Linked DNA regions of Homo sapiens: all the other regions are linked to region 4. Evidence: fine-mapped expression QTL. A gene starts in region 4. Each other region holds a variant in brackets. All regions are shown on one strand. Distances are between the middles of the regions. Region 1 overlaps CAPN9 (calpain 9). Region 2 holds the start of MIR1182 (microRNA 1182). Region 3 holds the start of LOC124904546 (a long non-coding RNA gene). Region 4 holds the start of CAPN9 (calpain 9).

Evidence for each region. PIP is the estimated chance that this variant, and not a neighbour inherited with it, causes the effect.
Region 1: its variant is fine-mapped to the expression of CAPN9 in nasal epithelium (TOPMed, PIP above 0.99).
Region 2: its variant is fine-mapped to the expression of CAPN9 in prefrontal cortex (CommonMind, PIP 0.95).
Region 3: its variant is fine-mapped to the expression of CAPN9 in prefrontal cortex (BrainSeq, PIP 0.95).

Annotation. Positions count from the first base shown.
Region 1 is chr1:230,784,163-230,792,266 of GRCh38, reverse strand. It overlaps CAPN9 (calpain 9), which reads right to left. Exons shown (of 20, transcript NM_006615.3): 12 at 6,250-6,286; 13 at 4,665-4,745; 14 at 2,078-2,135; 15 at 339-403. All of the region lies in intron 1 of CAPN9-AS1 (CAPN9 antisense RNA 1), which reads left to right. Among named protein-coding and RNA genes, the nearest start is that of CAPN9-AS1, 7.0 kb to the left of the region's middle. RefSeq lists an enhancer at 7,663-8,104. The variant G/A (reference allele first, on the strand shown) is at 3,108.
Region 2 is chr1:231,019,734-231,027,837 of GRCh38, reverse strand. FAM89A (family with sequence similarity 89 member A) reads left to right here. Exons shown (of 2, transcript NM_198552.3): 2 at 7,712-8,104. The coding sequence ends at 7,975. It overlaps MIR1182 (microRNA 1182), which reads left to right and starts at 7,914; the gene lies at 7,914-8,010. It also overlaps the pseudogene LOC644006. The variant C/TGTGTGTGTGTGC (reference allele first, on the strand shown) is at 3,318.
Region 3 is chr1:230,800,296-230,808,399 of GRCh38, reverse strand. It overlaps CAPN9 (calpain 9), which reads right to left. Exons shown (of 20, transcript NM_006615.3): 20 at 6,411-6,830. The coding sequence ends at 6,804. It overlaps LOC124904546 (a long non-coding RNA gene), which reads left to right and starts at 1,284. Exons shown (of 2, transcript XR_007066937.1): 1 at 1,284-1,331; 2 at 6,665-7,017. The variant C/G (reference allele first, on the strand shown) is at 3,892.
Region 4 is chr1:230,743,610-230,751,713 of GRCh38, reverse strand. CAPN9 (calpain 9) reads right to left here and starts at 4,326. Exons shown (of 20, transcript NM_006615.3): 1 at 4,005-4,326. The coding sequence starts at 4,217. It also overlaps a transcript of AGT not described here. RefSeq lists an enhancer at 1-1,021.

The DNA.
Region 1 (8,104 bases), 41 kb before region 4:
CTCTGAAGAGGGGAAACGGCAGAAGTGGAATGGGGGTGGTCCCGGAAAGTTCACAAAAACAGAACTCTGTTCCCTTGGATGGGATCCCAAAGTGGCAAGAAGACCCCCAAGTCCCTTCAAAAGCTCCCCACCCCCACCACTAGGCAGTCTTGTGCATCTTGATTCTGATCCAATTTCAGCATGGGGGTCCCCCAGCTTTGGGTTATTTTCTGTGAAGAAGACTATTCTGCTGGCTAAGGATGTCATGTTCTTGGAGAGTCTGCACTATTGAAGATTACTCTACTGTGCTTAAAGCCCAGGATCCATGTCTATTTCTGCTCAAATATTTGGAAGGATACGTCCATCAGGGAAATGATGTTTTTACAGGAGATCAGGCTTAGCTTCTTGAATTTGATGTCCTTTTCTGAAATTGCACATGAAAGCTGAATTCAGTTGACCCGATAAGATAAACCTATGTACCCATCTGCTGAAAGCCCAATAATGTGGCTAAATCCAGGGCTGTTGGGGGCTGTGATGTGGCTACTCTCTTATGATGCTGGTAGGAGTAGAAGTTAACATGACCTTTCAGAAGGAAAATTGGCTAAATGTGAAAAAAGCAATAAAAGTGGGAATACGCCTTCATCCATTTATTCTAGTTCTAAGAACCCCGAGCAAAGAATAACATATGAAGATTTTTGTCATCATATTATTTATAGTGGCAAAAATTTGGAAGTGAAATAATGACCAATAGAGAGGCATGGTCAATACCTTAGGCTATGTCTATATAATGAAGTATTATACGACCCTTAGGAATCATGTTTTTGCAGCATATTTAATGGCAGGATTTAAATTTGTTGGAGAAATTTGTACTCCCATACTGCTGCTGGTGAAAATGTGAAATAGTCACTTTAGAAAACAGTTGGATAGTTTTTAAAAACATTAAACATAGAGTTAAGCAATCCTCTTAACTAAACATATAATTAAGAGGATGGTTATGCCACCATGTAACCATAGACTGTTGCATTGTGATGGAACCATCCTCATAACTATATACCCAGGAGAAGTAAAAACACATGCCCACCCAAAAAACTTGTATAGGAGTGTTTACAGTTGCATTATTCATAATGACCAAAAACCGGTAACAACCCACGTGGCCACCAATAGATGAATGAATAAACAGAACAGGGCCCATCCATACGATGGAATGTTGTCTGGCTGTAAGAAGGAATGAGACATTGATACATGCTACAGCATGGATGGACCTGGAAAACATCACACCATGTGAGAAAAGCCAGTCAGAAAGGACCACATATTGTATGATTCCTTTTTTTCCCCCTGAAACGGAGTATTGCTCTGTTGCCCAGCCTGGAGTGCAACGGTGTGATCTTGGTTCACTGCAAACTCCACCTCCCAGGTTTAAGCAATTCTCCTGCCACAGCTTCCCGAGCAGCTGGGATTACAGGTGCCCACAACCACACCTGGCTGATTGTGTGTGTGTGTGTTTATTTTTAGTAGAGATGGGGTTTCACCATGTTGACCAGGCTGGTCTTGAACTCCTGACCTAGGTGATCCGCCTGTCTCGGCCTCCCAAAGTGCTGGGATTACAGGCGTGAGCCACCGCACCCGGCCTATGATTCCTTTTATATAAAATATTCAGAATATGTAAATAGAATCTATAGAGAAAGTAGATGAGTGGTTGCCTGGGGCTGGGGGAAATGGGTACAGGGTTAACACTGTTAATGGGTAAAGGGTTTCTTGTTGGAGTGATGAAACATTCTAACATTATATGTCTACGCATATGACACACATGTACATACATGCAGATACACATATGTTAAGAGTGGTTATTTATGGTGGTGAGATCATTTGTGACTATCTTTGTCATTAGGCTTTTCTGCATTTTTAAGAATTTTCTACTATAAACCTGCATCGTTTTTGGAATCAGGAAAACAAACAATGAAAGCTATTTTTAAAGTCTACCTACAAATCAGCCCTGGGAAGCAGATCTGCGGCTCGGAGGAGCAGGGAGGGGACCCAGGCAGTGTGGTCGCTTGTCCCTCCATAGGTGCCCCAGGACCCCGATGGGGTTGGCACTTACTCTTTTGCAGCACAGCATTTAAAACATACTCAAGTTCCTCTGCTGTCACCTCCATGTCCTGTTGAAGTGGAGACAATTGTTTGTTATAGCCCTTGGCACCTTCTTTTATAGTTTATTTTTGTTTTAAATCAGTTCTGAGCTTCATTTGGCTCCAGTGACAGACCAGCCTTCAGGACCCTGCTGTGGGCAGATGTACCTATCTCCTGTGTAGCTGCAGCTATGTGTCTCATATGTCACATGTTTTAGGGACATGCCAGCCCAACTAGGAGAGAGCCTAACTTGAGAGACATCCCAACCCAGGAAAGCGCATGAAAAGCTGGGCAGGGCAAGGCAGTGGTTTCCCAGCTTCCCTGAGGGTCAGAACCAACTCCTGGAATTGTCCTAAGCTCCTCAGATGATTCCTATGTTGGAGGCAGTTTGGGAAAACCAGACTGAGTCTTCCTCTGTACAGTAGAACCACCTGCAGAGCTTTAAAATAGTCCCGCATCTGGGGCTTACCCCAGGGAATCTTGAAATCAGAGGACCTGAGAATATGGTCCTATTTTTAAGACCTAGGAGTTGATTTAGAATTAAGAATAAGGGTGAATTTCAGAATCATGGATCTAAGGCACTCCAGGAAATCTCAGCAGCCCCCACCCCAGAAGCTGGTTAGAAATGGAGAGTCTCAGACCTTGCCCTGAGACTCAGGCTTTTTTTTTTTTTTTTTTTTTTTTTTTGATACAGGGTCTTGCTCTGTCATCCAGATTGGAGTATTAGTGGTGTGACCACAGCTGACTGCAGCCTCAATTTCCCATGCTCAAGCAATCCTCCTACCTCAGCCTCCCAAGTAGCTGGGACTATAGGCATGCACCACCATGCTGGGCTGATTATTTTTGCAGAGATGGGCTCTCCCTATGTTGCCCAGGATGCTCTTGACCTATTGATGAGGAATCTGTGTTTTTTTTCCCAGGATGCCCAGGTGACTTTATGCACATGTGTGTTTGAGTAGCACTGACATAGACCTCATTTTAGTCAGGGTTTTGCGCTAGCC[G/A]TGTGTTATGCTGTGGAGTGCTTCTAACACATGTCCGTCCTGAAGCCTCTGGGCCTGGGGAATGGGGGTTTGGGATGTTTGGTGTTGGTAAGAAAGCACTGCCCCAGCCAGGCCCCCACTGAAAGAGGAGGAAAGAGAAATGGAGCCATGTGCCCAAGTCATCCAACTACTTGGAAGAAAAGCAGGACATGAGTCAAGGAGGGCTGAACTCTAGAGGTACTTTTTGGTTGTTAATAAAGGTCGACTGAAACTCCTGCAACATTCACCGCTTCCCTTCCAAACTCTGGATCTCCATCTGACAACTTCTGCGCACCCGCATGAACCTCTTTAACTCCTCTGAGCCTGTCTTGCTGGGTCTGACCCAGCATGCTCCAGATAGCACCTGGAGCAGGGAGGTCACCACTGCCTTCCCCCCTCACCATGCTCTGTCCCGCCCAGGGCTGCGCTCAGCCACCTTCCTGCTGTGCTTTAAGCAGTCACATGAGCCCCCATTTTCTCCATCCGATCCTGTGGTCCCCTAATCTCCCTGCCTTGCCTGTTTATTGCAGTGCCTAATATACTACCATCAGACAGCCCCTAGGTTTAGATATCACCCCTCCAGGTGACCCCTTTCATAATTCAGGAACCCCAGTTTGGGGAAACACATGAAGCTAATAGAGTCATTAGCACCTTGACATGAATTAGTTCATCAGCTCATTGTATTTATGGCTCCAAGAGAGCACCTCTGGGGCAGTTTCTAGAAAGACTTCCCTCCCCTGACCCCAGCAGGTGGAGGAAGAGCCTGGATCTGTGTGAGGCTCCATCCAGTGTCCCTAAAAAGGAAGCTGAGCAGTGGAAAGAGCTAGGATAGGGTGGGGGACAGGAAGTTGCAATTGAATAGGGACCTCCTTGAACATGATCCCCTTTACTACAGCAAACAGAGTATTCTAATGGCAGTGATTTTCAGGCAGAGTTCAAAGGAGTCACCTCTTCAAGGCTTGCTCTAGCCTCCCAAAGAAAGCACCTGGGGCCAGGCGTGGTAGCTCATGACTGTAATCCCAGCACTTTGGGAGGCTGAGGCCAGAGGATTGCTTGAGCCTAGGAGTTTGAGACCAGCCTGGGCAACATAGCAAGACTCTTTATTATTTATTTTTTTAATTAGCTAAGCATGATGGCATGTGCCTATAGTCCCGGCTACTCAGGAAGCTGAGGTGATAGGATCTCTTGAGCCCATGAGTTTGAGGCTGCAGTGAGCTAGGCTTATACCACTGCACTCCAGCCAGGGTAAAAGAGTGAGACTCTGTCTAAAGCAAAACAGAACTAAAAAACAAAGCGTCTGGGCCTATTCCAAGCTTCTTTGGGCTCACTGGCCCCATCCACAGCCGCAGACTGTGTAAGTAAATGTTGTAAACAGGGTGGTCTTTGGGCCTTGAATGATCAGTGCTGGTCTTACTTTGCAACAAGCTCCATCATGCCTCAGGATGACGTTGCTGACCAACCCCACGACTGCAACCCTTTGCTAGGAAGCAGGTCCAGGCCCTCAGCCTGGTGGGGAGATGGAAGTGGGGCATGTCCTACCTCACCAGCGACTTGTTCAAACAGAGCCCGAAACCGCTGCTCCTCCTCTGTCTCCTGGTCAGGTGGAGTTGGCTTTGGAGGCTAAAAAACAGCCAAAGAAACTTGCACAAAATGATCCACAAAAAAGAAACATGACAAAAATAGCAGGAAAGAAGCCAGGAGCCTGTGTGCCCAGCCCCATGTCACCCTCCTGAGGCAGTGTGCACAAGCTGCGTCCTGTAGCGTGAGGAACATTTTCTCATGAAGGCTCTTTTAGAAGGTGAGACTAGAAGGACTTTATTAGCTGGACCTGTGGAGCCCTTCTGCCTTACAGACGAGGAGGCCAAAGGACCTTGACCCGTGCCTAAGTTAGGTCCTGGCCATTGGATTTTCATGCTTCCTGCCCTTCCTCTGGCTTACTTCTTACCACCCTGGACTGGAATGACTTACTTCATCATCTGTTTTGATAGCTGGTAAAATCGTTGAAGGCAAGAGTCTGTTTCTACCACTAAGCTCTGGGCTTGGTATATAGAAAGAGCTCAGTAAATGTTTTGGGTGATTTTTGGTTTCTTTGGTTTTTTAGCACCATTAATAAGCTGTGCCCCAGCATGGAACAGCAAATTCCCTCCTAAAAGCAGATCTCTGCTGTCCCTGGACGTGTCAGACTATTTCCAGCTATAGTATCTCAGGGCCTCTTGCGAGTCCTCCAGCCCTTGGACGAGGGTAAAGCCACCCCCATGTCACCCCTTCCACACCACATAACATAGGGGAGATGTAATGTGTTCCCCTGAGTCCACAGTAAAAAACATCTCCCTGCCTCTCTGGTTTTCTTTTCATTGATTAGATTTCTTAAAATACAATTAAAAGTCTACCCACTTCAGAAGCGGCAGCCTTCTCTCAGGTGGAGTTGGTAGTGTGAAAGTTATTGAGTCAAAATGAAGTCACTAATGTTAAGAAAACCCTGACAAATAGAGCTCGGGAAGGCCAGAAGGTTCTCATGCTTATTTGCCTGATAACAAAAATATCACAAAAGGCTGCAAAACCCACAACCTTTCACAGAGGCCCTCGCAACCATACACAAAAATACTTCTACCTCTGCCTAGCAACTGCCTGTCCAACATCAGACTGGCTTCACTTTTGTTATTGATCTTTGTAGCCAAGGATAATTATTTCAAAACAATTATGTAATCCTTCTCATTTTTTCTTTAAAAACCTTTGTCCTCCTTTACCTCCCCAAATAGGTGCATAGTTTACTATGGCATGCACCTTCCCATTGCAGTGCTTTATCCCTAAATAAATAGCTTTTCTTTTAGAGAGTGTCTCTGTGTTTGTTATTTCAGTTGACAGTAGCACAGAGGAAGATGACATCGAACAGAACTTTATACCAAGCACCCACCTCACTCCCATGCCAGGTCCTTGTGGACTAGAAGAGCACAGACTAGAACACACACATCTTGGTCTCCAGGAGGTTAGAATCATAGATGCTTACTTGATTGCATGTAACCATCCCTGAACTGCAGAGTTTTACATGATGCTGTGATTAGAAGGAAGGTTTCCAGAACCATCACCTGAATCCCATACTCCATAGCAACATCAGAAGACTCACCTCAGGAAGGTCAATGTCTACATTTCCATCCATATCCCTGTAGGGGCAGAAAAACACACTGCCTCAATTGTGGATTAACTTCCCATTGGGATCTGCAGAGCTGAAGAGCCCAGAGCCTGGGAAGGTTCTGTCCCTTTGAATCCCTTATTGTTCAGTGCTGTTTACATTTCACAGAGTTTGCAGACCCCATGCATTGACACCCCCACCCTTAGTCACTCAGACCTTGCTCAGAATGTAAATAAGAGGGACAGCCATTGTGTTAGACCATTCTTGCATGGCTATAGAGAAATAACAGAGACTAGGTAATTTATAAAGAAAAGAGATTTGATTGGCTCATGGTTCTACAGGCTTTACAGGAGCACAGTGCTGGCATCCGTTCTGCTTCTAAGGAGGCCTCAGGAAACTTACAATTATTGCAGAAGGTGAAGGGGGAGCAGGCAAGTCACATGGAAAAAGCAGGAGCAGGGTGGTATGGGGGAGTTGCCAAATACCCTTAAACAACCAGATCTCGTGCAAACTCACTATCGTGAAGACAGCACCAAGCCATGAGAGATCCGCCCCCATGACCCAAACACCTCCCATCAAGCCCCACCCCTAACACTGGGGATTACAATTCAACATCAGATTTGGTGGGGACACATATTCAAACTCTATCATTCTGCTATGGGCCCTCAAATCTCATGTCCTTCTCACACTGCAAAATATAATTATGCCTTCCCAATAACCCCCAAAGTCTTAAGTCATTCCAGCATTAACTCAAAATTCCAAAGTCCAAAGTCTCATCTGAGATAAGGCAAGTCCCATCACCTATGAGCCTGTCAAATCAAAATCAAGTTCCAAGATATACAAATTCCATTTTATACTTCCAAAATACAATGGGAGTATAGGCATTGGGTAAACATTCCCATTCCAAAAGGCCAAAAGAAAGGGGCTACAGGCCCCATGCAAGTTTGAAACCCAGCAGGGCAGTCATTAAATCTTAAAGCTCCAAAGTGATCTCCTTTGACTCCATGTCCTACATCCAGGGAACACTGGTACAAAGGGTGGGATCCCAAGGCCTTGGGAAGCTCTGTCCCTGTGACTTTGGCTGCTGTCATGGGTTGTTGAGTACCTGTGGCTTTTCCAGGCTCAAGGTGCAAGCTGCCAGTGGATCCACCATTCTTGGGTCTGGAGGATGATGGCCGCCTTCCCACAGTTCCACTAGGCAGTACCCCAGTGGGGACTCTGTGCGAGACCTTGAACCTCACATTTCCCCATCTGCATAGCCCTAGTAGAAGTTCTCTGTGAGGGCTCTGTCCCTGCAGCAAGCTTTTGCCTAGGCATGCAGGCTTTTCCATACATCCTCTGAAATCTAGGTGGAGGCTGCCAAGCCTCATTCAGTCTTGCACTCTGTGTGCCTGCAGGCTTAACACCATATGGAAGCTGTCAAGGCTTATGGCTTGCACTCTTGCACCCTCTGAAGCAGTAGCCCAAACTGTATCTGGTGCCTTTGAGCAGAGACTGGAGCTGGAGCAGCTGGGATGCAGGTAACAGTGTCCTGAGGCTGCATAGAGCAGTGGGGCCCTAGGCCTGGCCCATGAAGCCATTTTTTTCCTCTTAGGCCTCTCGGCCTGTGATGGGAGGAGGTGCTGCTGCAAAGGTCTCTAAAATGCCTTTGAGGCCTTTTCCCCATTGTCTTGGTTATAGCACTTGGCTCTTTTTAGTTATGTAAATATCTCTAGCAAGTGGTTGCTCCATAGCCTGCTTGAATTCCTCTCTCGAAAAAGCTTTTTCTTTCTCTGCTATATAGCCAGGCTGCAAATTTTCCAAATTTTTATGCCCTGCTTCCCTTTTAAATGTATATATTCCAGCTTTA
Region 2 (8,104 bases), 280 kb before region 4:
GTGGAGGGAATCAGGTACAGGGCGGGTGGTCGAGGAGCATTCACAGATGCAGTGGGGATGAGGGTGTCATGGGGGACAGTCGGGGCTGTGCAGGTTGGGAGTCAAGGGCGTAAGCCTGAAGAACAGTCAGACCAGATGGTGGAGTGCTGCCTACGGATCTTCCACCTCCCTCTAGAAAATGTTAAGTGTCGCTGTTTAAACAGCCACAGCTGAGGAAGAGGGGCCCGGGCTAGGAAGTCTGGTTTACTGTGCAGTGACTTACCTTATGTCCTCCGAGCTGATTTAGAGGATTTCTGGTAAATCAGGAAGTTTAGTCTGGTGCCTGAAGACAGTGGCATTGAGAGGCTGGGAGGTGTGTAGGCGTGTGTGTGCGTGTGCATATGTATGTGTGTGCGTCTAATCCTTGTTAAATCCGTCTGAACTTTTGCCATGTGTCGGGTTGTGTAATAGGTGTGTGCGGGGCTGCGCTGTATTCCTAGGCGGTCAGGATTCCTTTCTAGGCCAGTGTTCCACCTGACGACAAGGCAGCTTTGTGAGTCATCTGGGTGCTACAGTGCAGAAGTGTCCAGGGAGAGATCCTCTTTGCTTTCGACTCCCTGCCGGGTGCATCACCTCGGTGGGCCTGGGAATACCTTGGAAATGGCACTGTCAGGAGAAAAGCCTGGAGCCACGTGTCTGGCTGGAATGGGGTCATGGGGAGTCAGAGCCTTTGAAACCTAGAAGCGTTCAGGCTCCTGTGTTTACCTGGGCCGACCTCAAACCATCCCAGGAAGGAGAAAAGCAGACCTGCTCTGATACCAGGGTGCCCACTGCTACTTAGGTGTTTTTCCATTATTCATTCCTGGGGTAAGAAATCGAGTCTTGGGTTTACCCACCCTACTGGTGTCAGAGGGACTCAGCAGGAGAGTAGATCTAGGATTCCAGATGATCTTCTTCCATGGTTTTTGAGCACATACTATGTGACCCCGAGAGAGTGTGGCTTTCTCGATTAAAGTTATTATTTCTTTTATGAAATCCTAGCAAAGATAGGGACGTCAGAGCTGGCCGAGTCAGACTCCTGGGGGCATGTTGATGGCATCCAGATGCAATTCTGCAGAGGAATCCTGGAAAACAGGAGTAAGTCTAGAGGAAAGGCCACGGGTGTTAGTGGACGAGAGGTCATAATGAAAATAGGGGAAGGGCCTGAGATATTTAGCTTGGAGAGAAGAACACAGGTTTGGTTTTTGTTTTAGGGCATGGGGTGGTGGAAAGTAAATGACCTTCAGATTAAAGGGTAGTAGTTAGGAGAGAGTTAAATTAGATCTGTTTGGATGCTCAGCTGTCACACCCAGCATCAAGGGCTCTGTGGGGCCTCCAGGCTGGGAGGCTTTGACTTTGTATAAAATAATCGTATTGGTTTGGAGAGGAGTGCAGTGGTTTGGAAGGTCCTCCTTTTGGGGTTTGAGGTAAGATATCCCAAGTCTTTTCCTATTTGAGAGTTTCCCTTCCTCATGAGGCAGTGTCACTGGCACGTTGTCACCCTGCCTGACTATGCTGGCTGTCTTCTGAGCGAAGGTGACCATCTGGTTCCTTCTCATGTACCACCTCAGTGCTGGATTGGGAGAGGAGCGGGAGGAACACAGTGGGATGGGGCGCTTCTGTTTTCAGAGCCTGGCTGTACCTGCTGCTCCTTCCTGAGGTGAGTCTGCCCACTAGCAGAGTGGAAAAGAAACCATGGAAATACTAACAATGAGAATAGAGGCTATTGATTTTTTTTTTTTTTTTTTAGGAGCTGAGCAATTTATCCACAGTTTCTCAGCTGGTGAGTGGCGGAGCCAAGATCTGAACCCAGGCAGGGAGGTAGGCAGGTTCCAGAGCCTGCACTTTTAATTCTGTGCTCTTCTGCTTGGCTGGCCTGAAATTCCAGGCTTACAGGATAATAAATATAAGTGGCCCAGGAAAATCAGAAAGATATTTGTGTCAAGATCACTGGTTCTTTGCTGGAACTGAGCATCAGCATCATCTGGGTACTTTTTGTATTATTTATTTATTTTTTCAATAGAAAATTCCTAAACTGACTGACTTTTCTTTCCCTCCTTCTCTCCCTTCCTTCCTTTCTTCCTTCTTTCTTTCCCTGTCTCTCCTTTTTTTAATAGAAAATTCCCAAACTATGGATAATTTTTAAAACACAAATGCCAGATATGCTGTTTCCCTCCCTCTTGACAGACACACATCCTTTCGAACTCTAATCAAGAAAAAGAGCAAGCAGTGGTGTCTGCCTTAGGGTGTGGTGGCCTGGGCATCTCTTAAGTTGCCCATTGCTTGCCTATTCAAGGTATGCTTTTGAGATGCCATTGAATAAAGTTTGCTCCTGAGTACAGTACTGGAAACTGTCTGTCTTTCGCTTGCAGTTCATTTAGGACAGAGAAGCAACAGTTTATATAGGGTCACAAAGTGTTTGAGCTAACCATAGATGAGCGAGCCCAAATCCCCCATTTTATAGGCTGGCAGAGGGTCGGGACCTCAACCAAGCCACAGAGGACGGCAAAGCTGGGCCTGGAGACCACGCTCCCGACCTGCAGCTGAGGTCTCTTCCTAAGAAAGTTTAGAAATTCTGGTGTCAAGGGTAGTTGTGGTGGCCGGGCACGGTGGCTCACGCCTGTAATCCCAGCACTCTGGGAGGCCGAGGCGGGTGGATCACAAGGTCAGAAGATCAAGACCATCCTGGCTAACACGGTGAAACCCCGTCTCTACTAAAAATACAAAAAATTAGCCGGACGTAGTGGCGAGCGCCTGTAGTCCCAGCTACTCGGGAGGCTGAGGCAGGAGAATGGGGTGAACCCAGGAGGCAGAGCTTGCAGTGAGCCGAGATTACACCACTACACTCCAGCCTGGGCAACAGAGCAAGACTCTGTCTCAAAAAAAAAAAAAAAAAAAAAAAAAAGAGTAGTTGTGGTAGCAACAGAACCCACCTCTCTATCTGGAAGTCTTCTTGAGTGTCTTAGCAAAAGATGCTCTGTAGGCTGGGCACAGTGGCTCACACCTGTAATACCAGCACTTTGGGAGGCCAAGGCAAATCACTTGAGCCCAGGAGTTTGAGACCAGCCTGGGCAAGATGGCAAGGCCCCATCTCTACAAAGAATTTCTTTAAAAAATTAGCCAGGCATGGTGGTATGCACCTGTAGTCCCAGCAGCATGGGAGGTTGAGGCAGGAGGATCCCTTGAGCCCAGGAGCTTGAGGTGGCAGTGAGCTATGATCATACCACCACACTCCTGCCTGGGTGACAAAGCAAGACTCCATCTCTAAATGTGTGTGTGTGTGTGTGTGTGTGTGTGTG[C/TGTGTGTGTGTGC]ATGCAATGTAATAAAACATAGTTCTGATTTTTATGGTCTATTCAGGCCATAGTAGAGAGACAGCCAGTGTTCACTTGGCAATTTAGAAAAGTTGGAGGGTATGAAGAGTAAACCTGGAATTTAACACCCAATCTATTTACAAGATGATCACTTTTTACCAGGCCTCAGCTTCCTTTTGTGAAAGCCATACTATCTTATGTGGAAAATCTTATTGCTAGGTAAACGAGTCATTTCGGTAATTATAAAATCTGTAAATCCTCTGACACTTTCTGTGTGCTTTTCTACATGCGCGTACCCATGCATCTTTTTTTTTTTTTGGTTCAAATTAATGGTTTTATTTCCATCTTTAACACTAGCAGAGGAGTCCAAAGCAGACTGATATCCATGGATGTAGTTTAAATGTAACAAAGAAAGAGTTGAACTATGTACATTGAAAAAAGGAAAGACATTTTTTCATACCAACCTTTCCCTAGTTTGCAGTTTCTGAATAGTAGAAACAAAACACATTTTTAAATCTTTTTATCAATTTAATTTAGGACGAAGTACACAACTTTTATAATTAACCACTGAAGTTGTCTTCAAGGATAAAACTTAAAGAAATTTTAAAATGGGTGTTACCATATTTTATTAGTGGACTGACTCCAAGGTTGCCTTGCTCCAAGTCTGGGCATTGTGACATTCCCGTGATGCCCAGAAGAAAGTTAATGGCAATGATGTCCAGTCAGGGGGCAGACACGCTACACATCACAATGATGGGAGCTGAGGATTCTGCCCTCTTCAACTCCAAGTAGAAAATTATTATTTTCATTCAAACTAACTGGAAGTGAGCCAAACAGTTAAAAAGTCAGAATGAAGAATAAAACAATTTTCTTTTCACATAGAGGAGGGACACTCCTTCAGCCCCGTCTAAAGTGAATTCTGTGCTGAGTCCCTTCTCCTTCAGAAGGGTAAACTGAAGGTCAGTTATTGCTAACAAAGCCAGAAGTGGCCCCTTTCCCACCCTGAAGATGTTTCACACGAAAAGGCTGTTTGTTTTGCTTGAAGCCCTCTGAGGAAGGAGGGCAGCGGAAGAGGAGGCATGCCGGCACTGTAAGGCCTCTCTCGTTAGCCACCGCCAGGCCCTGTGCTGTCAGGGGCAGCTTGGGCCACTTTGCTGCCCCTGAGCGAACCTGAGGCTCCCACCTACCTGTGGAGTGAAGGAGAGGTTGTCCTCTGGGCCCCTGTTTCACCAGTCATAACCTATGGAGCAGTCAAAGGCCCAAAGCATCCAAGCCCAGTGGGCTTCTGAAATAAACGGCACGGGGTTGGGAAGGATGAGAAAGCCAAGTCAGGTGGGCCAGGTTCTCCGAACATGGGGCAACAGTGACCTGGGCAAAAGGCTGGAACTGAGCGGCTGATAAGGCCACAATTACTGCCACCACCTCTCAGTATCTACACGGGGGGCAGATGTTAGGCAGTGGGAACTGAGGACTGGAGGGCGTGTGGCAAACACCGGATGGATTTTATCAGAAAAGAGAGGACACCCAAACATGTGCCTGTCCTATTTATCTTGCATGTCCTGTGCCAGGTGAAGGACGCTGGAGCATGGGTAAGGTTCCTGAGAACAACTGGTGGGCAGAAATGGGCTGGGATGGGCACTGCTCCACAGGCAACATTAAGCCTCTGAGGGGGACACTAATAGTGCTACATCTGGTGGGCTGCTGAAAAGTAGGTAACGAATGGCCTTTATTGCACTTTTTCATTCTTAGGAAACGGGATTGCCCTGCAGAGCTTCTCTTGATTTGCAGAAATCACTGCAGATCAATGATAAGGTGCAGGCAGAATCACGGGTGACCTCTGACTCTCAAGGGAAGAAGTCCAGTGATTGGTCTTTTCAGGGCCTCAAGGGGCCACTCTTGCACCTGGGATCCTCGAGCTGGGTGAACCGGGTCTGGCTTGGTCAATGTGTGGCAGGCAGATTGGTCGACCGGCAGACACTTGGGACAAAAGGTGGTGTGCCCGGGAAAGCTGGGGCAAACTTTCCAAACGGAAAATTTCTTGGCAAATGTGCAGGTTCTGCAACCAGACTGGAACCACGATTCCCAGTGTGCCTGACTCCCTTTCTCTCACTCTAGAACTGGACCACCCCAGAGGAACAGAGATGGCCTGGGAGGGCCCTGGGTCCAGCGCCATAGCATCAAACTGGAGATAACAAAAGGAAGGGGTTGGAAACAAAAGAGCAGTTTACATATCAGACGTGGGTTTCAAAACAGTCTTTTTGAGCTCAGGAAAATGGAGGCAGATACCACTGGAGAACCTGATTGTCCATCCGTCTCTCCTGGGCGTCTCTGAATACTTCATATATGAATGGAGTGGTACTGTTTGTGGTTGATCTTTTTCCTACAAGTTGGGCAAGTATTAGCGTTCTTCAGGGAATCACGGAGGCACTGGCTACAGAAGACATGGCCACATTCTGTGGAAACGATGAGACGTCTATTCTGCACGATCTCTGAATATCTGTCCATGCAGATAGGACAACCGACAGTACCCGAGGGCCTGAGGCCTATAGCGCCCTCATCCCTGGTGTTTCTGGAAGTGTGGGTAGTCACATACACGTCTCTGTCCCTGGACAACAACTCATCGTCACTGCTCACCATGCAGCTGTCAGCATGGTCCTGGGGCAGCCTCCTAGCATTCCTCCTTGGTCTTCTTCTTTTGTCAACAATCACAACAGAGTCATTGTGAGTCAGATCAACCACCACAGGCTCTAAAGATTCACAAGTGAGGTCAACAATTTCATCTCCAGCAGTTTCCACGAGTTCTATGGGTTCTGCTTCCAAGGAAATCTCAGGGGTGGAGGTTGCTTCCCGTGTTCGCTTCTGGGCTTGTCTAGAATTTATTGCTCCACCTCGACGCTTTCTTGTACTCATTGTGCTCTTTGGTGCCTTTCGTTTCCTAACAGAAAAGGAAGTGATCTATACCAAGGTTTGCAGGGAAGTCGAATGTTCTCAACCTTTCGTGCCCTCTGGTTAATCATCTGGCTTGCAAAAGAATTTGGATCGGGACAGATTTCCAGTATTTTAAAGTCCTGGAGCTAGTTAGGTCTGCAGGCGCTGCCACCGGCGCACTCCAGAGAAGAAGCTCCTTCTCCAGCCGCCCAGGAGAGCTGTACCCATGCATCTTTAGTGCTTTAGCCCGGGAGGCATTAGAATCCTGTTTATTGAGTGGATTGATATTGAATTGCCCTAATAGCTCCATAAGAGAAATTATTGTTCCATTTTGCCATCAACCAAGGCACGGAGATGAAGGTGATAAATACCTTGCTCAGGGGCCAAGAAGCCGAAGGCAGGTCCCCTGGTGTCTTCTTGAGTTTCTTCCCGTTGCCATTCAGAGCAGGGTCTGTGGAACAGCAGCATAGCACGGAATCACCATAGGGGCTTGGTGGAAGCACAGCCATCCAGTGGCCCCAGACCCACTGAATCAGAGTCTGCTTGTTGAACAAGATCCCCGGGTGGTTCTCATGCACTTTAAAGGTTAAGAGGCACCGATGCTGGTCTATGCTGCATTTCCAAGAGGCTTAACTGTTCTCTCTTTGGTATTGGTGTAAACGATGCATTTCCTGTTCTGACTGTGACCGTGCTCTTTTCTCTGGGATGGGTGGTGGGGGAGGGAGGAACTGGAAGATAAACAAGTATATGACTTTTATAAATGTTCTGTGTTCTTTTGCTGCTTGTTTTTGTGGGGCTAGTTTTCAGGAGGAACTGTAGAGCCCTTCATCTTCCAGGGCTTCCTCATATTCAGTCAGTTACTCTGGGGAGGGATCCCAGAACCATCTGGGATAAGACTGACCCTGCCTGGAGGAGAGGGAGGCAGTGTAACCTCTGACCACTGAACTGCACAGAGGTGGGTGCTCCAGGGGGATGTCACGTTGGCCAGCTGCTGTCACTGGCAAAGGGCATTCTGTTGCCCCTGGGAGTTGAGAATGACTGCATCAGTCAGATCCTAACGCAGTAGCAGGGAAGGCCAATGTGGGTCTTCTCCGAGTCTGATTGGGAGAGGAAGTGACACACTCGTTTCTTGGCGTCCAAAGTGAAAGCAGGTGGGGCCACTAGAATATGCAGTGCTGTTGCTTCATCAGGCACACTCAGGAGCGCCAGGGTAAATTCTGCAGGCTGCCCTGGTTGCCCCACAGATGCGATCCTCACTGGACTCAATGAGTAACGTCTGAGGTATGGGCATAACACAATTAAGGTGTTCTCAAAACTGGAAATCCAAAGCATCCGAGTGATGCTCTGAATCATGCGCCGTGTGGAAGGAATGTGCTGGCAGGCGCAGATCGCCGGCTGAGTGTTCCACTGAAATTAAACTCAAGTGCTGACTTCTCGTTTTTTACCTCCCCACCCCTTCCCTCAAGGTTGGTCTCCGCCAGCTGGACATGTCCTTGCTCTGCCAACTGTACAGCCTCTACGAGTCGATTCAGGAGTACAAGGGGGCATGCCAGGCAGCCTCCAGCCCAGACTGCACTTACGCTCTGGAGAACGGCTTCTTCGATGAAGAGGAGGAATATTTCCAGGAGCAGAACTCCCTGCACGACAGGAGGGACCGAGGCCCTCCTCGGGACTTGTCACTGCCTGTCTCCTCCCTCTCCAGCAGCGACTGGATTCTGGAGTCCATCTAGAGGGTCTTGGGAGGGATGTGACTGTTGGGAAGCCCTTCCTACTGGACACGCTGTCATCATTTGCTGCTTCTCTTGCAAGAAAGCACCTCCGTTGTGGACGGTCCTCGGGCACAGGGGATGAGCGCTACC
Region 3 (8,104 bases), 57 kb before region 4:
TATTAATTCTCCTGAAATTTGCATAGGGGACCCATGAGGAGGCATGGAGAGATAAAAACGCATGCCCAAGGACTTTCTAGACCTCCTCTTTCCTCCACCAATCACCTACTGATCTCAGAATACAGCCTCTGAATCTTTTCTAATAAAAATACTGCTTTGGAGCCAGCACAAGAAGACAGATTTGAGCTCGATGTTCTAGTCTCCTTGTGAAGCAGCTTGCAGTATAAAGCTTTTCTTTTCTCAGAAACACAGTGTCATAGCATTGGCTTCTAGCACATTGGGCAGTGAGCCCCTTTTGTTTGAAAACACACTGTTCACTGTTCCAACTAAGGAAGCTGTTCTGGTGCATTGAAAAGTGACTGCAAGGAGATCGTCTGGGTGGGAGACTCTCTTTTTAGAATGTAGAGGGTAGACTGGGAAGGACAAGAGAGAATGCTAAACCCATACAGACAAGCTGGGTTCAGGTAAGTGTGTATAATGGAGGAGCTGAGTGTGTTAAGATGTTGAAAGGCAGGAGGAGTACAGCTTTCCAAGAAGCCTGGTCCTGATGTGGCCTACAGAGAGTCTTCTGCGTGACCACATTCTTCTCAGAACTCTGAGCTCTGTCAGGGAGTAAGATGAATTCTCAGGCTTGCTGGGCCCACCTCTGCTACCTTCTCTCCATCCATCCAATTAGACCAGGACTGAGCCACACTGACCTGGCCTTCTAGTTCCCAGAGTGAGAGAAGGAATCACATAATTTCAAGGTGCAAGGCAGCCCAGAGAGGTAAAGTGATATGGTTAAGTCCACACAGCTAGCTGGAGGTAAGTTCTAGACTAGAATACAGGACTCAAACTCTAAGTTCAATGCTGCTTCTATTACATGAGCCTGCAGTTGCTCCATATGGTTCAGCTGTTCCCTTTCCTTGGAGAGTCCTACTGATAATGAACCAATAAACCTCCTTGGGAATATCACTGAGCTACGTTCTTCCATCAGAGGCACTGTTCAGGCACCAAGGAGAGTCTAACCCTCTGCTTCTCCTTCTCCCACTTCAGAAAGGCACTGTGGGGCTGGGAAAATGCCCCAGGCTGGCATCAGTAGCAAGCACAGCCTACTCTTGATTCACAGCTGTGGTGACGAGGCAGCCTTCGCACTGGTACTTGGCAGGCGGTCTTGGCTCTCAGTAGAATGGTGCTTTGTTTCTACTAATGATCCAGTACACTGAATTGGGCTGGCACCAATGACCCTGGTACCTCTGCCAACCAGGTCACATGCTCTGGGCTTTCTGAAGCCCTGGCCCCTCAGCGCACTGCGTAGCTCTGCACAGGACAGGGTGGAGAGGAGCCTGGAGGTAGGCCCTGTATTTCAGATAAACATGACTGTGGCCTGAGGCTCTCTCCAGGCACTGTCCAAAGGATTTGGTCTCAGGACCAAAATATTATAGGTTGATATGGTATGATATGTTTCATGTTGTAGGTTGATATGGTTTGGCTCTGTGTCCCCACCCAAATCTCACTTTGAATTTAATCCTTATACTCCTCATATGTCAAGGGCAGGACCAAGTGGAGGTTAATTGAATCTTGGGGGCAGTCTCCCCCATGCTGTTGTCATGAAAATGAGTGAGTCTCATGAGATCTGATGGTTTTATAAGTGTCTTGTATTTCCCCTGCTGGCACTTCTCCTTCCTGCCGCTTTGTGAAGAGGGTATCTTGCTTCCCCTTCACCTTCCGCCATGATTATATGTTTCCTGAGGCCTCCCCAGCCATACTGAACTGTAAGTCAACTAAATCTCTTTCCTTTATCAATTACCCAGTCTCAGGCATGTCTTTATTAGACTGTGACAGTGGACTAATGCATAGGTCTATTCAGATTTTCAGTATTCTCTGAAGGTAGTTTTGGTAATTTATCTTTTTCTAGGATTTTTTCCATTCCATCTAAGTTGTCTGATTTGTTGACATAAAGTTGTTTAAAATATTCACTTATCATTCTTTTAATTTCTGATGGGTCAGCAATGACGGCTGCTCTTAGATTCTTGATTGTTAATTTGTGTTTTCTGTCTTTTTTCTTGGTCAGTTTAGCTAAAAGTTTATCAATTTTGCAATCTTTTTTAAGAATCACCTTTTTGTTTCTTTGATGTTCTCTATTATTTTTCTCTTTGCTAGTCAATTGATTTCTGCTTTAGTCTTTATTTCTTTCCTTTTAAGGTTTAATTTGCCTCTCTCTCTAATTTCTTAAGATGGAAGCTTAAATTATTGTTTTGAGAACACTCTACTTTTCTAGGTCCTGCTTTAGCTTAATCCGGTTAATGTGGATGTGTATAGACATGTGTAAATACATAGTTTATTTTTGTTTCATTCAGTTCAAAATCTTTCTAATTTCCATTGTAATTTTTCTCTTCAACTCATAGTTATTTAGAAATGTGTTAATTTCTAAAATTTGAGGATTTCCCAAACTTATTTTTGTTTCTAATTTAATTCCTTTGTGGCTGGAGAACATACTCTGAGTGATTTAAATTCTTTTAAATATATTAAAAATTAGTTTTATGGTCTAGTATATGGTCTAACCTGGAGAAAGTTCCATGTGCTTTTGAAAAAATGTGTATTCATTACTTGAGGGTAAAGTATTCTATAAATGTCAGTTAGTCAAGTTGGTTGATAGTGTTGTTCATGTCTTCTATTTCCTTGTTAATTTTCTGAATAGTTGTCCTATCAGTTATTAAAAATGGGTTATTGAACTCTCTAACTATAATTGTTAAGTCTGAATAATCTGTTTCTTCTTTCAATTATATCAATTTTTGCTTCATAATTTTGAGACTCTACTATTAGGTACCATCACACTTGTAATTATTATATATTCCTAATGTATTGACCCTTTATGATACTGTAATATCATTTCTTCTCTCTAATAATATTTCTTGTCTTAAATTTTATTTTCTCAGATATTGATGTAGGCACTCAAGCTCTCTTATTGCCAGTATTTGCATGGTACTCTCTTTTTCATCCTTTTACTTCCAACTTTTGTCTTTTTGTATGAAGTATCTCTTGTAGATAGTGTACAATTGAATCTTGCTTTTTTATCCATTTTGACAATCACTGCCTTTTGATTGTAGTTTTTATTCATATTTAATATTATTATCAGCATGGCTGGATTAAGGTATGCCATTTTGTTTCTATGTCTTATTTTTAAAATCTGTTCTTCCCTTACGGCTTTTGTGCTAAACATTTTTTTTAAGTATTCTGCTTTGATTCCTCTGCTATCTTACTGTATTTTTGAGTTATTTTCTTAGTGGTTGCTCTGTAGATTACAATCTGCATCTTAATTTATAACCATCTAATATCTAATATCATTACCTGAGGTAATACTGACTTAATTCTAAGAAAATATAGAAATATTGCTACAATACTTTGTTTCTTCCTCTCTCCTTTATAATATATCTCTCTATTGTTATAAATCCAACAACATAGTACAATAATTAATGCTTTATATAATCTAATGTCTTCAAACAAAATTAGAATGGAAGATAACACGTTTATATAGTCTTTTACATTTACCCACAGATATCCTTTTGAGTGCTCTTCATTTCTTTCTACAGATCCACAGTCTCATCTAGTTTTATTTCCTTTCACCCTGAAATACATCCTTTAATATTTTTCCAGTGGCAGGTCAGCTAATAATGAATTCTCTCAGTCTTTGTTTAACTGGGAATATCTTTATTGTGCTTTCATTTTTGCAGTTCTAGTGGAAAAACAGAATTCTTGATTGAAAGATTTTTCCTTTGGCACTTGGAATGTCATTCTACTGCCTTCTGTCGTCTGTCATTTCTGATGAGAAGTCAGTTGCTAATTGCATTGTTCCCTGTTCATGATGAGTCATTTTTCTCAAGCTGCTTTTCAGATTTTCTCTTTTTTTCC[C/G]AACAGTTTGACTTTGATGTGTCTAGGTGTGTATCTCTTTGTATTTCATGTGATTTTGGTGTGAAGCAGTAGCGTTAGATAGCTTGTGTATACTATTGTTTAATTAATTTATTTTTATTTTTATTTTTGAGAAAGTCTCGTTCTGTCACCCAGGCTGGAGTGCAGTGGCACGATCTCGGCTCACTGCAACCTCCGCCTCCTGGGTTCAAGCAATTATCCTGCTTCAGCCTCCCTAGTAGCTGTGATTACAGGCATGCACCACCACACCCAGTTATTTTGTTTTCTCTCTCTCTTTTTTTTTTTGTATTTTTTATTTTTTTGAGATGGAGTCTTGCTCTGTCCCTCAGGCTGGAGAGCAGTGGCACGATCTTGGCTCACTGCAACCTCCACCTCCTGGGTTCAAGCGATTCTTCTGCCTCAGCCTCCTGAGTAGCTGGGACTACAGGCACGCACCACTACACCCAGCTGATTTTTGTATTTTTAGCAGAGATGGGGTTTCACCACATTGACCAGGCTGGTCACGAACTCCTGACCTCGTGATCTGCTCGCCTTGACCTCTGAAAGTGCTGGGATTACAGGCGTGAGCCACCATGCCCAGCCACTGTTTAATTTAAAGGTAGTAGGGCACGAATATTTTGGTGCCAAGACCTAAAGCATATATTATGCAGGTGGTGATAGACATAATGTGAATGGCCATAAATCGCAATTTTCCTAGGACAGCTCCAGTTTACATCTATTGTCCTGGTGTAATAACTAATATTATTCCTTTCACACTCAAAAGCTGTTGGTTTGAATTATAAGCTACAAAATCACTTTAATTATAGTTAATCAAACTCATGCATGTGAAACATCTTCCTTTGTTTCTGGGTGTCAGTATCAGACCATGTAATTCAGAAACAAATAGAAGCTAAATTCATACACTTTTTTTTGTTCTCAACTCATGATCATATAATAGTCTGTAGAGCTCTATTGAACTCTCCTTCAAGACTGGTTCTATAATTCTTGGATTCTTGCAATGAAGAACAGAGGTAAACCGAAAGCATGTGATAGTATGTAACTCTTTTAGACATTTAAGAAAACACTGGTTCACAACAGTGGGCCTTAGTTGCACTGAGGGCCTGTTATGTGTCAAGTACTGTGCCTGGCACCTTCTACTTACAATTTCATTTATTCATCATAAGATCTCAGTGAGGCAGAAATTACCATCCTTGTGAGTGGAGGAAACTAAGTCTCAGAGAGTTTAATAACTTTCCCAGGGACATATGGATGGAAAGAAAACAGGACGCCCAGTTCATAAACTTCATTTCCTGGGTACCTTTCAAGCAGAGGAAAAATCAGTGAGAGACAGTTATGTGCTCCTGGACATAAAGGCCTAAAGGCACCCTGTGGGAGTGACACTAGACAAAGAAGCTCATATGGTGAGTCCCCTTCCAAGTTTTACCTGTGAGCAGGGCTAGTGTTCACGACATCTAACAAACAATATGGCAGCAGTGTGCATCGATGAGAGTGGGCACAGGCCGAGCACAGGAGATGGCATGTCTGGGGTTGTACTGGCGTGCCCCAGCACAGAGCCTTGGTCCTAAGCCTGCTCCTGAGAGAGGGCTCTTGTCCTGCATCCACTGCTGCGTGAACCCAGGGAAGGGCTGGAAGGTAAAGGAGAAGATCATGGTACCTTGGCCACGATCAGGGACAGGGTTCTGATGAAGCTCCACTTCTTTTTTTTTTGAGACTGAGTCTCGCTCTTGTCGCCAGGCTGCAACCTCTGCCTCCTGGGTTCAAGTGATTCTCCTGCCTCGGCATCCTGAGTAGCTGGGATTACAGGCACCCGCCACCACGCCCAGCTAATTTTTGTATTTTTAGTAGAGATTGGGTTTTGCCATGTTGGCCAGGCTGGTCTTGAACTCCTGACCTCAGGTGATCCTCCCACCTTGGCCTCACAAAGTGCTGGGATTACAGGTGTAAGCCACCATGCTCAGCCTCCACTTCTAACTTGATCTTCATCCCAGCCATTCTCCCTCTTTCCCTCTCGGTATCTCCCGCTCCCATCCTCCACCTCATCTGCCACAAGTGTACCAGTAAGAATGTGGGGCTTGGCATGTATTGAGCCAGTATCTTCTCATGTTACCTCCCATTATTCTAGTTCAGTGGATACTCCTGTTCAGCACTAGTGAGCTATAATGAGGATTCTCGGGTCTGTTTTCCCCCATCATGTTGGGGATGAGTAAGATCAAACCTCACCAGAATCTGGACTCCTTGAGAAGAAATAATATCATTCAGCTTTTCTGACCCAAAGTCTTCAGACACAAAGAATGTCTGGACTGGATAGTGACTGTTTTAGTTACCACCTCTCGTAGGAGGAGGTAGAGATTGTCACCTTGATCCACTCTTATCGGAGATCCACTCTTGTCCAATTATCGGAACTACCTGATGTCTTCCCTGATAAGGAAGCACACTTATGATGCAGAAATGCTAAATTATGACCTCACTCCTTTTCCTCCTCATCTTATTCCACATACACATTTATAAAAACATGTTTTATAAAGGATGTCTGATCACAATGACTGGAGCTACATGGAAGTCAGGATTCTGTGCGTTAGAACTCTGAGTAATTCTTAATGGAAGGAAATAAGGAAAGTAGAGTGTGGGAAAGCTAGTGATGCCTGAACCTGGATGTAAGGCACAGGTGGCGCCATCAGCCCCCTTAAGGCAGTGACTTTACAAAGGAGTAGCACAAAATCAGAGAGTGTAGCTGAGTTCATTTCATTCTTCCCAGATCAAGATGAAGGGAGAAGGCCGGACGATGAGAGGGGAGTGAACCCTGGGCGTAATGGTTCCACACCAAGAGAAGTTCTGAAGGTCAAGGTCCAGAAGCCAAGATTCAGCTGGGCAGGCTGCATCTCTACAAGGCAGCCTCAGATGTTCATTGTCAAATGGATGAACTGGGAAGAGAGAGAGAGAGATGAGGGGTCGTTGTCCTTCCATGTCCCTTCCAGCCTCAGCCTCAGGAGTGGCCCCAGTTTGCTGATATCACAGGAGATCTGCTATTTGATCATTTTGCCTGCCAACTTGGATGTCTGTCTCAGCAGGAAACCATTTAAAGAAAATAAATGAATTCTCAGCACTTGACATTTTCTGGAGGACCTGAGTCCTTTCCAAGTGAGCTCATATCAAGCACAGTTGGTAAGACAGAGACGGGAAAATGTGCTTTCTCCCTGTTAAGAGGACAGCCTCGCTGAAGCATCTTGGGCAGGGCAGTATTAAGTGACTTTTCCTTGTTGATGAGGGGTCCTCTCACCTTTGGGAGAGAGGTGGCCCTCCACCCTGGAGGGGCTGCAGGAAGTGGAAGCAGGTTCCATAGCTGGGGGGTGTTACAAGTGAGCTGAAGGAGAAGTAGCATGGAATTCCTCCTCATTTTCTCTCCCGAGTCCACCCTGCCTCCTCCTTCCCAACAGCTTGTTTATTACAGCATGGTGACTTGGGGCAACGTGATTATATGAGATGGTTTTTTTCTCCCTTCTCTGTCCTCCTTCCTGGGCACAGTGTATATAGTATGAGAGCTACTGTAATGAAAGGTGCACAGGCCTTTTTAGGAAAGTGATTGCAGGTGAGGCCAACTCAGCCAGGAAAATCTCCTGTTGCTTCCTAGGATGGGTCAGGGGAAAAGGAGAGGGACTTTAAAACATGGATACTTCAGACCTGGCTGCACACTGGACTCACCAAGGGGATTAAAGAAAAACAATGCTTGGGCCTCACCTCCAGAGATTCAGATTTAATTGATCTAGGGAGTGGCTGGGGTATCAGGATTTTTAAATCTCCCCAGGTGATGCTAACATGCAGCCAGATGTAAAGATGGTAGGTTTAGAGGGAGAGAATGCAATGGTTTTCACTGTTGTACTGCAGGGTGATGATATGGGGCAGGGCAGGAGCCTATTCCAGCCCCTACACCTGTGGACACTTGCGTTAGAGGTGTCCACACTTCTACCTTGAAGCTGCAGCACTGGAATACTTCCTCCACACTGCTGGTGCTCTGGAGCCTTTGACTAGCCAGGGGGCCGCTGAGTAACAAACCTTCCCACTGTCTCCTTCCACCATGGACCAGGGGCAGCCATCACACTTCCTCATGTTTTTTAGTGACATTACTTATCATTTACCTTAAAGTAAATGATAAATAAAGGTGGACCTAGGGGTCTCTCTTGTTTTTCCTTTCTTTCTT
Region 4 (8,104 bases):
GAATAATTCACAAAGGGAAAAGCCACCCTTCTTTCTTTCTTTCTTTCTTTCTTTCTTTCTTTCTTTCTTTCTTTCTTTCTTTCTTTCTTTCTTTCTTTCTTTCTCTTTCTTTCTTTCTTTCTTTCTTTGTTTCTTTCTTCTTTCTTTCTTTCTCTTCTTCCTTTCTTTTTTTCTATCTTTCTTTCTCTTTCTCTCCTTCCTTCCTTCTTTCCTTCCTTCCTCCCTTCCTCCCTTCCCTTCCTTCCCTTTCCCTCTCTCTCTTCCTCTCCTTCTCTCTTTTTCTCTTTCTTTCTCTCTTTCTTTTTCATTCATTCTGTCTTTCACATGGCCTTCCAGTGAAGAAAAGCCACATTTCCAGCAAGGTCTGGAGATGCCAGACGCTGCTGTTCATAGCTATGTGCCGATCCCTGTCATGTGCCCAGCACTGTGGAGGCCATGGGGCCTTTGGGGCTGTCCCAGAACAACTGACAACCCCTCCTGGGGGTCAGGGGAGCAGCACAGGGAACGGCAAGCTCACCGTGCAGGAGAGGCTGTGGTCACATGCCACGCTGTGCACAGGTCTGCCACAGGGGTTGTTCACATGGGCTAGAGGGGTGTGGGCACTTTCGGGGAGGTGTCCTGGATTTACACTGAGAATTGGTGGGGGGGAATTGCCTGGCCAAAAATAAATGGGTACAGGCAGACAAGGAGGGATGGACTGCATGGTGGCTGTTCCCCATCAGGCTGGGAGACCTCACCCGATACTCCCTCCTCCTCTTTCTGTGCACCCACTTCCACTCAGGTCCACAGTCCCTTGCATGAGACCTGGGGGTGATCTCACCTTCTCTCCAGGTTGAGCCTATCACCCTCTCTGCCTCCCAGCCCCTCCCAGCCAGTTCCCTGAGTCACCCTCAGTGCACTCCTTGCCCTGGGCTCCCTTGAGGGCAAGCCTGGCTGTCCACTGCCCTCCAATGTCCCCTTGGCTTTGTGCTCTGCCCACCCTCCCCAAGTACAGCTGTGTTTGACAAGAAGGTGGTGCTGAGGAGGAGGGCCGTCCAGCCCCACGGTCCCACGGGCTGCTGAGATGTGCACCGTGTAATGCTGAGTCCCACTGCAAATGATGCCCAAGCCACAGAGGTCTGCAGGGAACCTGGCAATGCTTGTGATTTCCCTATGGCCCGCTACCCCCCGGCTCCCTGCGACTCTATGCTGCAAGAAGAGTCTCCATGCTCATCCTCAGCCCTTTTGTTCCTGATTTTACAGAAATCTGTAAGATATGATGTAAAGCTTCTAACTCCCCTAAATAAGAAACAGATAGGGGTACGAGAATGAGGACCAGACCAAAGGGACAATCTTCAGTTGCAGACAAAGGAAAAGGCAGAACAGATTCTGAAAATGAGTCTGTGGGAACGACAGCAACACAGTAGACCTGGGTTAAGATCAATAAAGGGTCTGCCGTAGGTGGAGACAGTGGGATGAAGAAGGGACAGAGGGCTGGTACAGGGGCATGGGCTGGGTGGCAGGTCGGGGTGCATCTTGGCAGGGGCTTGTGTGTATCAAGGGCCCTGGCCTGTGGATGAAGGCCTCACCCAGCGTTTGGGGCAATGCCAGAGGAGATAATACTAAGGAAGACAGCCCCTTGGAGCAGAGATCTGGGACTCTAGAGTCGCTGGGCAGGCCTTGGTGGCCCTGGTCCCAGGAGGGGAGACTTCTGAAGGGGGAGACAAAGATGCCCTCCATGCTGGTTTGTGCGTCCAGCTTTTATCTTGGAGAATTCTAACTTTGACAAAAAGTAAGTGAGTTGTAGAGTACAGATTACACTTTAAACTAGATGATGTCAATATAGACTGCAAGGATGGGGGCCCTCCTAGAGTCAGGAGACGATGGTGTTAGGTTACAATGACAGCAGTAGAAATAACAAGGACCAGCACTGATTCTTTACACACCAGGCTCTTTGCTAAGTGCTCTACTCATGGTAACGCAGCTGACCCTCATGAGGACCCCATAAGTTGCATTATTGTCCCCATTTTAAGGAAGAGAAAAAGTGCTTCCAACCTTTTCATATCAAGTGCCTGTAGAGAACATGAGCATCTGTATGAAACCCTGGATCAAACAGAAAGAGCCGCTGCTTCTGGCCAGGGGCTCTGCTCACCAGGGGCCCAGGAAATCAATTTCTCTAACTCTATTTCCCAGGGCTCCTGACATCAACTGCAGGGAAATCTCTGCCCACAGTTAAAAATGCACCCACAGCCTGCAGCCTGGGCAGCTGCCCACGCGCCCATTTGTTCATGCGCCGAGGCCGGAAATAAGCCCAGGGAGACCTAATGGTCGTGGGCGGTGCCCCTCAGAGGGTCACTCTTTTATGTCTTGTAACTTCTGCTTTTTTAGTTTGGAAATGTCCTTTTTCTTACTTAGCAGAGCATGACCTACTAATCCTGTCTGTAAAGTGCAACCCCACGTGATCTGCCAGTGCCGTGACCTCACACTGCAATTGGCCATATGCAGAGAACCAAAAACAATCACAGCGTGGCTTCGGTGAGGAAGGTGCCTGGGAGCTTTCACCCCAACTCCGATAGGGCCACTGAATGCTCACTGTGATTTCCCCATGAACATGGCACCTTGTGGGATCAATTACCTGGCAGGTGAAGATCAAAGCACCTGTGTGCCTATGCATGCAGTCACCCACCCCCCACATACACGCCTATGCATATCCACACACATGTGCACACAGTCACACACATGCACATACACAGTCAAATTCCTACACACACAAGTGCGTGCACACACATACACCCCACACTGCCTACTGCAGGAAATAGCAATAAAACCCTTACCACTTCGGAAACACCCACTTAGGTTCACTTTGGCCCTGCCCCTGAAGAGCCCAGAAGTTTTGTGAATGTGCGTTAAAAAAAATTGTTTTTAATCATCAACATTATTTTAATGTTGGGAGATAGTGAGGAGGTAGTTATGATGAGTCCTTTGCTACTCATATGTAAGATGAGACTCAGAGCTAATAATCATTGTAATGATGATAATAATAGTATCAGTAATAGTAATAATGTGACAATAGCTGTAATGTACTGGAAACCTTCTGTGTGCTAGACATTGGCCTGCATTAGCCATTATTGTTCCCATTTTACAGGTGAGGAGACTGAGGCTCAGGGAAATGAAGTGATATGACTATATGCATGAGACAAATTGTCAGGATAAGACAGGCACTCAGGATCTCACTTGTAGGACCAGCATCCCTTGTACTGCCCCTCCTTGCCCAAAAGCAACCGGACCCCACAGGAGCCACTCCCAGGCCCGTACCCACCTGGAGGGAATGGAAGCCAGCCCAGCTGGCGCCGGGTCAGAGGTAGAGCCCTGACTAATCCAGCACCGCAAATATTGACATGGCGTCCCAGGCACAAGCTAGCACCTCTTGGGACCCAGTGACCAGCTGGTGCCTCTTGGGACGACACCTCCAGACTGTCAGAGGTGGGGCACTGTTCACCCTGATCTCTGGGAATGGGGGGTGCATGGTTCTCGGGAGAAGATTCCTGCTTCCCTTGTATTCCATCTGTCACCCGGTTGCTGAGACCTTGCTGAGCCAAACATCCATCCACACTGAGCACCCTCAGCTCTGGGCCAGAAGCCACAGAACACTGTGCATAACGTGATCTCAGTGTTACCACACACAGGGTGGGGGCCTGTCCTTGTGGATAAGGTTTTGATTCGTGCCTATCACCTGCTGACAAGACCCACTCTGACTCCAGGTCCTCAGCCTCGGTGGGAGTCAGACAGCTTGGAGCCGGGGAGCGGGTACAACCAGATGCCCCGGGTCCCCACCGCAGAGCATCCCAGGCCTGTACATTATTTTCTGCCTCCAAACTGCAAAGCTTTCCACGGTAGACTGGGATGATGCACCTCAGTTGCACTGAGCGTAGCCGGCCCCTCCCCAGCACCCCTGTTTCCACTTCCTGCGGGGGCTGCTGAACCTCGGCCTCATCTATGCTCCTTCCCCTGCTCGCCCCACTCACCCCTGGTCGTTTCCACACAAAGGGGATCTGCGGCCTCTCACTGTAGAACAGGGAGGAATTGCTGGCTGGGAAGTCTGCATCCTCAAACAGGGTGCCTCTCTGCAGGCACTCCTGCCTCATTTGCTCAAAGCTCTGGCCTGAGGAGTGGGTGATCCGGGCGTCCTTGGGAACCGGGTGTGCCTGAGGCCCTGGGGCCCGGTAGAGGTAAGGCATGGCTGCTCCCTGGAAGGCTGGCTTGGGTCCGGCAGTGGATGGAAAAGAAAGTGAAGAAGCGAGCTGTGTGTGCCGGTCAAGAAGGAACAGCTCAGAGGGCCACTGGGCTGAGTGGCCCTCACCTCCACCTATTTTCTGGGCACCTCCCTGTTAGACTGAGATGGGACACGCCCTGATGGAAAACAGCAGAGAGAGCCCTCTGCCCACTCTGCACTCCTGCAGACTCAGAGGCAGCTCTGGGGCCTGGCACATTCCACTCAGAGGCGGCACCTCTGCTTAGTGCGCTCAGGGGGCCTCATGGGAGAGAGAGGATTGCTTCAGAAGGAAAAGGAGCAAGAAACCCAACTGGTCCAGGAGGTGGCTTTACGGAGAAGTGCACGGTGTGGTCTTGAGTCCCATCTCCTGCATCAGAGAATGGCAGAGTTTTGTAGTCGGAAGGGAGGTTGGTGAATGAAAGCAGGATGCATTATGTGAACACAGCTGGCACAGCTCCTGCACAGGCAATCCCATAGTGATTCAGCACTGGGGTCAGCAAACCTTTTCTGTAAAGGCCCAGACCATGAATATTTTCAGCTTTGTGGGCCACGCAAAGTCTGTGCTGCAACTACTCAACTTTGCTGTTGTAGTGACAAAGCAGCCGTAGATGTGACACAGATGAATGGGTGTGGCTGTGTTCCAATAAAACTTTATTTACAAAGGCAGGTGGGGGTTAGATTTCATCCAACCTGACCCCTGATAGAGGAGAACTCACAGAGGACATCGGCTCTTCCTCTAGGGCACATGTGCCTCTTTCATTCTCTAGACATCATATTAATAAAGTTCCTTGTTGTTATAGTCCTACAAATAGGATCTCACGTCTGAGAAAAAACAAATGTTAGAGGATGGAGGTGGTTTGATAAATGTGTTTGCCCATAGAAATGATTATACAGGCTGGGTGTGGTGGCTCACACCTGTAATCCCAGCACTTTGGGAGGCCGAGGAGGGTTGATCACCCGAGGTCAGGAGATCAAGACCAGTCTGGCCAACATCATGAAACCCTGTCTCTACTAAAAATACAAAAAATTAGCCCGGTGTGGTGGCGGATGCTTGTAATCCCAGCTACTTGGGAGGCTGAGGCAGGAGAATCCCTTGAACCTGGGAGGTGGAGGTTGCAGTGAACTGAGGTCGTGCCACTGCCCTCTAGCCTGGGTGACAGAGAGAGACTCTGTCAAAAAAAAAAAAAAAAAAAAAAGAAAAAAGAGAGAGAGAGAGAAAGAAAAGAGAGAGAGAGAAGGAAAGAAGAAAAGAAATGATAAATACTGGAGGGGATAGATAGCCTAAATACCCCAACTCGATATCACACATTCTGCACATGTAACAAAATAGCACATGTACCCCATCAATACGTACAAATATTATGTATCAATAAAAATAAGTCAATAAAAGTATTAGTCACCACGTGAAAACTCTGATGTTCTAAGCACTTTATAATGATTTCTGTGTGATTCTCTAACTAGTCAAAGTTGAGGTTTGGAGACAAGGGGTCTTGAGTTAATGGGTACAGTTAAAAGGCCATGATGTGAATTTTTATATAAGCTCACAGTTCCCAGGAGTGTGCACTCAGTCTGACACACGTTCTGTCTAGTAGATCCTGCATATGGTTTTACAGGGGAGGTCTAGACATTAGAGTTGGGGATATTTGGGTTTTACTCTGCTATGGCCTGATTGCTTGTATTCCGCACCACCCCCCCGACCCCGCCAAAATTTGTATGTTGAACCCATACCCTGCAAGGTAATGGTATTAGAAAGTGGGGCCTCTAAGGGGTGATTAGGTCAGAAGAGTGGAGCCCTCATGAATGGGATTGGTGTCATTATGAAAGATTAGGTCACAGAGGGCCCCCTCCTCCCTTCCACCATGTGAGGACACAGGAACCAGAAAGTAGACCCTCACCAGGCATGGAATCTGCCAGTGCCTTGATCTTGGACTTCCAGCTTCCAGAACTGTGAGCAACACATTTCTGTTGTTTATAAGCCACCCTGTCTGTGCTGTTTTGTTATAGAAGCCTGAATGAACTAAGACAAATTCCCAGTTTTCCCTGGGGTGATCTTGGGCGAGTTATCCATGCTGTCTGTCCCTGCTTCCAAGCTGTGAATCAGGATAATCGGTGCTGCCTGCTAGAGGCATGGCGGGTTTGTGGAAGCAAAGCCACTTGCAAAGTCTGGCACATGGAGGGGATCAGGAGCTGCTGATTCCTCCCTTTCCCCTATCCTCTCTGCACCCCCTGCCACTCCCACAGATGCTGCTGAATTTCATGGTCTCCTTCTGAGCCTGACTTGCCTCAACTTGCAAGGCATCTCTTTTGTCTCTTTGTTTGCACAATGAAGGACTTTGGAACTGGGGTCCTCTGGCTGGGACCAGAGTGCAGTTCTGGCCAGTCCAAATGATTCTTGGCTAGAGATGATGGAGCTGCCCAGGAGTGTCCCATTGCCCACTGCCCTGGCAGACGGCTCTGTTTCGAAGTGATTAAGGAGGGCAACCTAGGGAGACAGGTGTGGCAATGTGAGGGCCATCCATTTCTGGTGACACCTCGGCAGGGAAATGATTACCAGCCCAGATCTCTGGGAGCATCCCCTTCAAATGCCCCAGCAACTGAGAAAGGACCTTGAAGTAAATTTCAGCACTGACCAGAACTGTAAAGGGTTTGCTCAGCACCAGACCCACTCCCAGCTTCAGGGATTTACGTTCTCATTCTCCTCCCGATACAAACACCTCTCCAGGCTGGGGTCTTGTCCTTCCACCTGGGACTTATCTATGTATTGGAAGAACCTGCCTTTTTCTTTAGAGTCTTAGTATAGTTGCTAGGTAATTGGAGAATTGCATCATCATTGTGAGTAAAACAAACATGCCTCAGAGTAGGAAACACACCAAAAAGGTTTAACAATCCTCCAGAACCACAGCTGGAATTCCTCCTGCCCCCTAACACTCTGGGACTCTGAGAATGTCTGCGGGAGGGAGTGCATTCTCAGGATTTACAGCCTCATCATTCTTCCTGCCCAATGTCTGCCCACAGAGCCCTGGGTCCATCTTTCCTGCAGAGCTCATGGCACCGGACTTCTCCATGACTTTGTCTTAGCGTCTAATCCTGCTCCCAGCTCAGCCCAGTGCAGGGCAGGAGCACGATGCACATTTGCTGAGTAAACATTGAACCAATGCCTCAAGAAAGCAGATGGCATTCTTGGGTGTCTTCATTTAGTTTTCCAAACCTTCACTTCTCAGGATGAACAATAGTTACAGAAACTGCAGCCATGCAATCTAAGGTCTACCAGGCCTTGCACACTTCCTCACCCACACTGGGAAATGCCCTGAGTGGCTCAGAGGGAAAGGGCTCTGAGCTTGGGCAGAGAATCATGTGCACTGTTTTTAATAAGCTCTGCCAGCTTGTCGCTAGCCTAGAGATGCAATCAGCTTTGAGCCAAGCGGGGGCCATGCATCATGTTAAGTGTATTTTCTTCTCTTTAGCAGAGCAATCTGCTGAAGTGATTTCTACATGAAATGAACCTGACCTGGCATCTGGGGCCTTCCTGGCCTCTCTTTTCTGTGCTGTTCTTTCTCTGTCTCCTCCACACTCAGGCCTGTGGCGAACTCCCTTTGTTTCTCTTCTTCTTGTTCATCTTGAAGGGCAGCAGGAGGTGAACATAGTGCCTGGGTGGCTCTGGGATGCCATGGGGCAAAACCCCAAGGACAAATGCTCAGAAGCTTCACATGGGTGCAGGGAGATGACCTCTAGGACCCCACCCGGTCCAGGCCTTACAGCAGGGCCTGGGTTTTGAGGGATATGCCAAACAGCCTGGATCCTGCAGAGGGATCTCAGCCCTATGATGGGCTGAGAGTGAGCCCACCCGGCTGC